Linked DNA regions of Homo sapiens. The protein of the gene in region 1 interacts with the protein of each later gene in a pairwise test. Each region holds a gene or a part of one and is shown on either strand. Other genes may lie near its edges.

Region 1 (3,500 bases):
CTGGGCACATTGCCACCCTCCATAATGCAGGGGCTGTTAGAAAGGAAGGGAAGGTGGATGTTGAGTGTAACAACTGCCAGTCTTCACTATGCTTTGAGTGCATTATCTCATTTAATCCTCATAAAAACTCCATGAAGCAGATTCTGTTGTAAGGTTCATTTTATAGATGAGGAAACTGAATCATGAAGATTAAGTTAGTAACTCTCCTACAAAGCAAAATTCATGTGAACAGACCTCAAGTGTTGGCCTGCTAAGCTGTCCTGTCTCCCTGCCACAGTGCCTGTCTCTCTCACATTGCTTAGGAAGTATTCTTGGTAAAAGCACAGGCCTTCCATGTCAGATAAGGGACCAATGGCAAAAAAAAGCCCTGCAGATGGTAGTTCATACCATGAGAACCCATTTTGTTTAACATTTACTTCAGCTTACCTGTTGAAGAAAACAAGGTCTCTGCTTGCTGCTGGGCCTCTTCTGCGGGACAGTTTGAAGATATTTTAGCTATAATAAAAGGCTCAGAGAAGGATCTAGAGTTTGCCCCCAAATAACCCAGCCCTACTCTTTTCTGGGCAGTTTTAGTAGAGAGCCCGATGTAGCAGGCAGCCTTTGCTGGGAGCCAAGGCTTCTGCCTCCGTGGCACTTCCTTGATTCTGAACTTTCTAGACTTTGGAAAAGTCAGGCTGCTCCTTCATCTCTCTCTCTCTCTCTCTCTGTGTGTGTGTGTGTGTGTGTGTGTGTGTGTGTGTGTGTGTATTTGTGTGTGTTTAGGTGGGGTGTGGAGAGTAAGATGTAGAGAGTAGGGTTTAACTTTGAGTTAGAGAGTGACACTTCTGTTCTTTCTTTGCCTTTAGTAGTTAAAGCTTAGCTTCTGGGGCAGGCAGATCTGAGTTTGAGTCCTAGGTTTATGCCTTACTGGTTGTGTGACACTGGTAAGTCCTTTTTCCTCCTTCTGCCACCATTTCTTTATAGGCATGCACCAGAGGTGTGACTCTTACCTTATGGGATTGTGGTAGGGGTTTTCTGCTGTGCTTGGCATTAAGTAAACACTCAATAAATATTAGTTGCTATTATTATTTTCCCATTCTGTCACAATCTACCTCTGAAGACAAAGGTTATGCCGGCTAATTTTAGATTACAATTTGTATGTCCTCTGAGTTCTGAATTTCTTGTGAAATGGCAGGGCACACATCTCCAGTCTTGTAACTTGTGGTGGGTTAGTGATCATGGTTACTTCTGATGATTAATCTGACCATTCTGTGATCAAACTTGGAACTCGCGTCACAATTTTCCTACCGACCTTGTAAGGTAGGGTGGCGGCAAGACTTGTACTGACTGGCAAACTCGTGTTTGTTTTTTTAATTCACAAGATTGGACTGAGTGTTTGTAATCTAGTTGTGAGCAGAATGACACTTGAAATATGCAAGAAATAGATACCGAAAACTGAAACAACAATGTGTGGCCTCCTTTTCTTAGTAACAGTTTCATTAGTACCACTTTCTGGGAAGAGCTGGTCACCAAAAGATTATAAACCAGAATCATTCTCAGACCAGGTGCTGGGACAAAAAAGGATTTGACCAGTCTTAAACTGAATTACTTTTTAATGCACTAGAAAGAGCCATACATTTCATTGGAAGACAGCAAGCATACAGGACATTGTTAAAACTTTCCAGGACTAGGAAACGCTGAGGTGACAGAAAGGAAAGAAAAGAAGAGAGGCAAGAGAGTTGACAATAGAAGCAAGTCTTAATGTTGGATGAAAGGTACACCAATTCAGGAAGGAAAGGTATAGAAGGAAAATCAACCATCTATTCATCATCCCATGCAGGTATGCATCCCTCTAAGCATCCATCCAATAATGGAATTATTTCCAGCTAGAGAAACCAACCAATGAAATAAATTATCTTCAGCAGAAGGTGGGGATGATGGAATCAGGGAAGGTGTCATGGAACATATAGCATTGGGTTTGGATCCTGAAGAATAGATGGTAATCAGACTTCTTGCTTAGATCCTGGGGTGTGCAGATGCATCTTAGGACATAAAATATTAGCACTGGGAAGAAAATCCAAGGATTTTAGGCTGATGTCTATAACATTTTTGCTACAAACTCCCTTATTCAAACCAAATCTACTGTAGAACTTCAGTATAAGAATAAAAATCGTGCGGTTTTGGGGGGCTATCTGGAGCTCTGATTGCTCATGTTCCCCCACATTTCCCTGCCATTCTCACTCTGTTGGCACCTGCAGGCACCATAACTATATTCCAGGGTTCTTCAGGTCACAGCTGGATCCCCCTGACCTGGCCAATCTACCCCTCTTTTTAGCAAGATCCCTGCTAGCTGGTCACAGAGAGTGGCAGTGAGTGGCTGTGAAACATATTGCATTGGTCTTCATCAAGCTCTGAAGCTGTGAAGACTATGTGTTCGGTCTTTGTGGGTCTCTTGTGAATAAAGAGGAGGTAAATTCCTAAAAAACTGACCAAGTGACTTCTTTCTCAGGCTTGATACTAACAACCACTCCCCTTCTCCAATGTCTTTCATAAAGGAATCCCTTGCATCATGAGGGCCATTGGTTAGCAAAGCTGAACATTATCCAGAAAGCTCCTCTTGACCAGCTGTGATGTTTCTCATGAATCCATTGTTAGGGCTACTCTCACTTGCGAAGGCTACACCCCAGGCCACCATGAGCCTTGGAACTTGGGCAGTTGGGTCTGACCCCAAATACAAAACTAATGCTGGGATCTGAAGAGTCCATTCTCCAAGAAAGTGGTCCTTACATGATGGTCTCAGGAAAAGTTAAGTTTTTTCAATAAAGCTCTTTAGTCTTGAAAAGCCAAAATTAGATATTGCTTGAATCAAGGAACAAAAAATCGGATATCCATCTGCCTCCTCCAGCTGCCTAACCACAGGTTATTCCCATCCTAGCTCAGATGGGCAATTCTAGATTCAAGCCTTGATCTAATAAGGAAAGAGACAGCCCTTTCCTCTGCTCCATCCCTCACTATGGTACTGCCTTGCTATAGAATTGGGGTGGCCACTGGGGTAGGTGGACTCTCCTCATTCACCTTCTGGTCTGGGACGGTAGGTCTGGAGCTCTGTTTAGGCCCTTTCTCTTTCCTGATGCCCCACTCTCAGCAAATTTGAGGCAATGCCAAATATGTAATCCAGGAATCTGCTTTGCTCTACAAGGTGATAAAACTCCCATCTATGGGCACTGAAGAGCCCTCCCTTGCCCATTGCCACATTTCTATTCCATATGCGATATGTGCTCCTAGGTTTCTAGCCCCCTTGAGGGAGTATCTACAACATAGCCTCAGCCATGGCTGTGTCCCTGGCCTTTAGGAGATACATATAGGTTCCTTAAGGGGCTGCATCTGAGGTCAGGACAAGGGAATGCCATCATACTCTGTCTGCAACCTAATCGCTGCCATTCAAAAATATCCAAGGTTTTTCATTTCTGAAGTCATACTTTAAAAACTCACATCTGCTGCAAACCTAATCCTCTGGTGAC
Region 2 (3,500 bases), on another chromosome or scaffold:
AGGTTTTAAGAACAAAAACGAGAAGCATCTGCATCGTGACTGCCTGTGAAGGCAGCATTCTCTCTACATACTTTATCTCATTCTGAACTCCTAAAAACCTTATAGGTCAGTAACTAAACTGACGTACTTTCCCAAAAGAGAATAAATGGTAAGCAGGAATCTGGAGGTTCAAACCAAGGATCAAACCAAAGGTTCCATGTCCCGTATTTTTGGCTATATACTTTGCTACTGCCAAGGTTTGGACGCAGGTGGAGTGAAAGATAGTCAAATTTAGCAGGAGGTAAGAAGCAGAGTATGCTAACCATTTGCTGAATACTTACTTTGTGCCAGGCAATACAATAAACACTTTACATTACGTATGTCTAATTCTCACAATGGCCCTGTGACACAGGTACAGTTATTCCCATTTTATAGAGAAAAAATGAGCAAGATGAGTCTGGCAGGCAGAGGAAGATAGATTTCAGTATGAATTGGAGGTGAGAAATAGAAGGTGTTAATTTAGGAATCAAGAAAGAAGAGGTAGAGAAAAGTCAAACAAGTAACTGACAAGACTTGGTGATCACTTAGATCTAAGTGAGGAAGGAAGTTACTCTTTATTGACATTTATTGATGAAGAAAACAGTTACCATTTATTGACACTCTGTGGTTTAAGGGAAGAGTTACAGGTGACTACGAGATTACATCTGAGAGTTCAGAATTCTAACAGGCACTGGAGACACAGAAAAATGAGGATGATGGGATTCCCTTTCAAACACATGGCACTCGCACATGGCACAGGGTAGAAGGCTTATGTAGAATGGCCCTGCATGCAAAATAATAGACTAGAATCTAACTACGTATCAGGGAGAGGGCTGTAGGATAAAATAAGGAGGGTGGGTGATCACTCCAAAGCAGCAGCAGAAAGCCTAAGACAGAGCCAAGGAAGAAACATACTTTTTGAGCCCAAGCAAGACAAAGAAGTCTGTTTTTAAAGAGACAGAACAAGACTCAGCAAAGTACTTCTTGACCTCTTAGCAGCCTTTAAAAGTTGTTCACAGTTGCCTGGAGACCTCCCACATACAAAGAGGAGTTGGCCAAGTACTTCCATTTAAGAGAAACAAATAAACTTGTTGTAATCAAATGCACCCTTAGGATTAAAAGTACCCTGTAGCCCTCTATGGAGAAAATAACAGAAGGCTAAAAGAATATGTGCATCAGAGAAAAATGGAAGACCCACTCTCAACTCTGACAGTATGCAGCAATAGTTAACTGGGACGTCCCTGAAAGCCAAGAAGTCACTGAACTTGGGACTTTTGTTTTATGCCACCAATCAGAATGCTACACAAAATTCTAGTCTCAGTCACTCCAAGCCAGGAGAATGGGTGTCCCTACCACTCTAAGCACTGACTACCGGAAGTCCCATCTCCTGGAACCTCTGTGTCATCCACATCTGTTTTGACTTCCGCAAATTTTATGTCTCTTTCTTTGCAAGGGCTAGTATGGGCATAACCAGGTTACCTGATGACTTCCCAAAAGACAACAAAGGCTGAATTAGGGCCCAGTAGCTTCTACTAAAACCCAGGAAATCACCTGGGGTGCTTTTGAAAAATACAGTTTCCCAGGTGCCTGAGATGCATCTCAGGAGACTTCCATGATTAGGCAAATATGACACACTGCACAAGATTCCTACTTAATAAATCCTCCGGGCACCACAAACTCCTACAGGTACTGTGATGACCCAGGTAATTCTTTAGGTCAACCTTCACATTCATGCCACCTCAGTCCTCTGGATAAAAACGTTCTTGCATCTTCTAAATCACCTAAAGGAGGCTCTGCCTGTCCTCCCACTCCAGGGAGAATCTATCATCCACCTGGGCACTAACTCACAAAAACAGAGCTCTCAGGAGTTACAGACCCAAGTTTAGAGCTATATTAAACTACACTATACCAAATAGAAGGGCTGCTATAAAGTGTTGGAGGTGGAAGAAAGGACATTTACTTTCCTATCATACACCTCGTGCAATTCCTCCATAGGCTTTCAACGCAATACAGAAAAAAAAAGTACATGTGTAATGTGTATATACATACACATGATCAAAATAGACTGTGGAAGACACAGAAGCTCCAAGACATGGGGCTTCTCAGTAGTACACACACTATCTTTTTTTAATAAGAGGACTGTAACTTTGCAAGGTTTACAGGGTGATCAATTAACTCAGCATATGTGCTCCTCACATTATGGAATAGAGCAGAGATTACATGAGGAAATCTGGAAAAATACTTTTAAATCTTTTTATGAGCAATAAGAAAAAATATATGTTAGACAAATACAAAAGAGAAACTTAAGAACTAAAAGACTCAAGCTTATATTTTATTCTTCTGAGATAAGGCAATGATTTTAGAAAATAATTTTCAAGTTTTATCCTTTCTCATCTTTACCCACTTAAAAAAAAAATGAAACCCCCTAGTTCTTAAGAGAAAGCCCTCTGCATGGGTAAGAAAGTAGTTATGAATATAATATCTCCATAAAGACTGATAGGACCAAGTCTACATTTGCAAAGCCAAGATAACAGATGCAACATAACTAAGTAACCAATTCGGTCCCTGGAGGCTTTCTAGAGGCCCACACTTACTACTGGAAAAGGAGTTCTCCTCCTAAGCTTTTGCTTTAAGAGAATGTTTCAGTTTCCTTCCAAAGCCGGCTGTGATAATTTAAACACCCACCCCTTCATACATGAACTTGATGTGATTTGAAAGAAAACTTTTACAAGATTTTCTGTTTTCATAAAATCTATAACCATTAATGATTCAACATGAAGGTCAAATAAGTCAAAAGAAAGCTTCTACCTGCCTCTCTCCAATCTGAAGTAAATATAAAATGGGTCCTTAACACGTTATATACAGGTAGCTTAGAGTATTGTAAATCCACTCAGCTGAAAACTACTGTTACCTGGGCTTTTCAAGATATCCTGGAACGACCACTCGGAGTCTGACTTTTCAATGAATTCCACAGTTAAGAGAAACCAGTTAACTGCATTCAAAAGCTAACTCGGAGGCCTTGCTGCCAATGTACAGCAACTTCCACTTCCACTTCCATCAGCTTAAATGTTCCTCCCCCTGCTCAGTCCTATAAAAAGAATCCCAATGATGTTAGGGGAAGAGGAATTAAACAATGCATTAATTTAAGACCATTTGTTGTTGTTATTCACTGATCTTTTAAACGGTAATCATTTGTTCCAAAACTTTTTTTAAAATTCACTTTGGCTCCTTACAGGGTAGCATCAGTCACCTGCCAGATTCCAACTGTGCTAAGTGAAGCAGGGAGCTAGTCTGGCCCACAAAACTACCGGTCAACTCCTGTTTCGCTATGGAAAACAAAATTTCCCTGACAGTCTCCAAGCTGGGATGTGAGGATTTTTTGATAGGACAGAGGGCTTTAATTGTCACTAGAGAAAAGAAGAACCATTCCTTCAAACCTGACTCAGGCCAGCTTGTTTTCTGGGCTCACCATTCTATCAAAA

What was found. Proteins that work in one complex are often made in the same cells at the same time.
Region 2: the proteins of POU2AF1 (region 1) and NAB1 interact in a two-hybrid assay, tested with the Homo sapiens proteins (one large-scale study listed by BioGRID and IntAct).

What each region holds. Positions count from the first base shown.
Region 1 is NC_000011.10:111,369,276-111,372,775, reverse strand, and holds part of POU2AF1 (POU domain class 2-associating factor 1), read left to right. Parts: intron 1-3,500. UniProt on the Homo sapiens protein: Transcriptional coactivator that specifically associates with either POU2F1/OCT1 or POU2F2/OCT2. It boosts the POU2F1/OCT1 mediated promoter activity and to a lesser extent, that of POU2F2/OCT2. It recognizes the POU domains of POU2F1/OCT1 and POU2F2/OCT2.
Region 2 is NC_000002.12:190,655,583-190,659,082, reverse strand, and holds part of NAB1 (NGFI-A-binding protein 1), read right to left. Parts: exon of another isoform or gene 3,107-3,500; 5' UTR 2,930-3,106; intron 1-2,929. UniProt on the Homo sapiens protein: Acts as a transcriptional repressor for zinc finger transcription factors EGR1 and EGR2.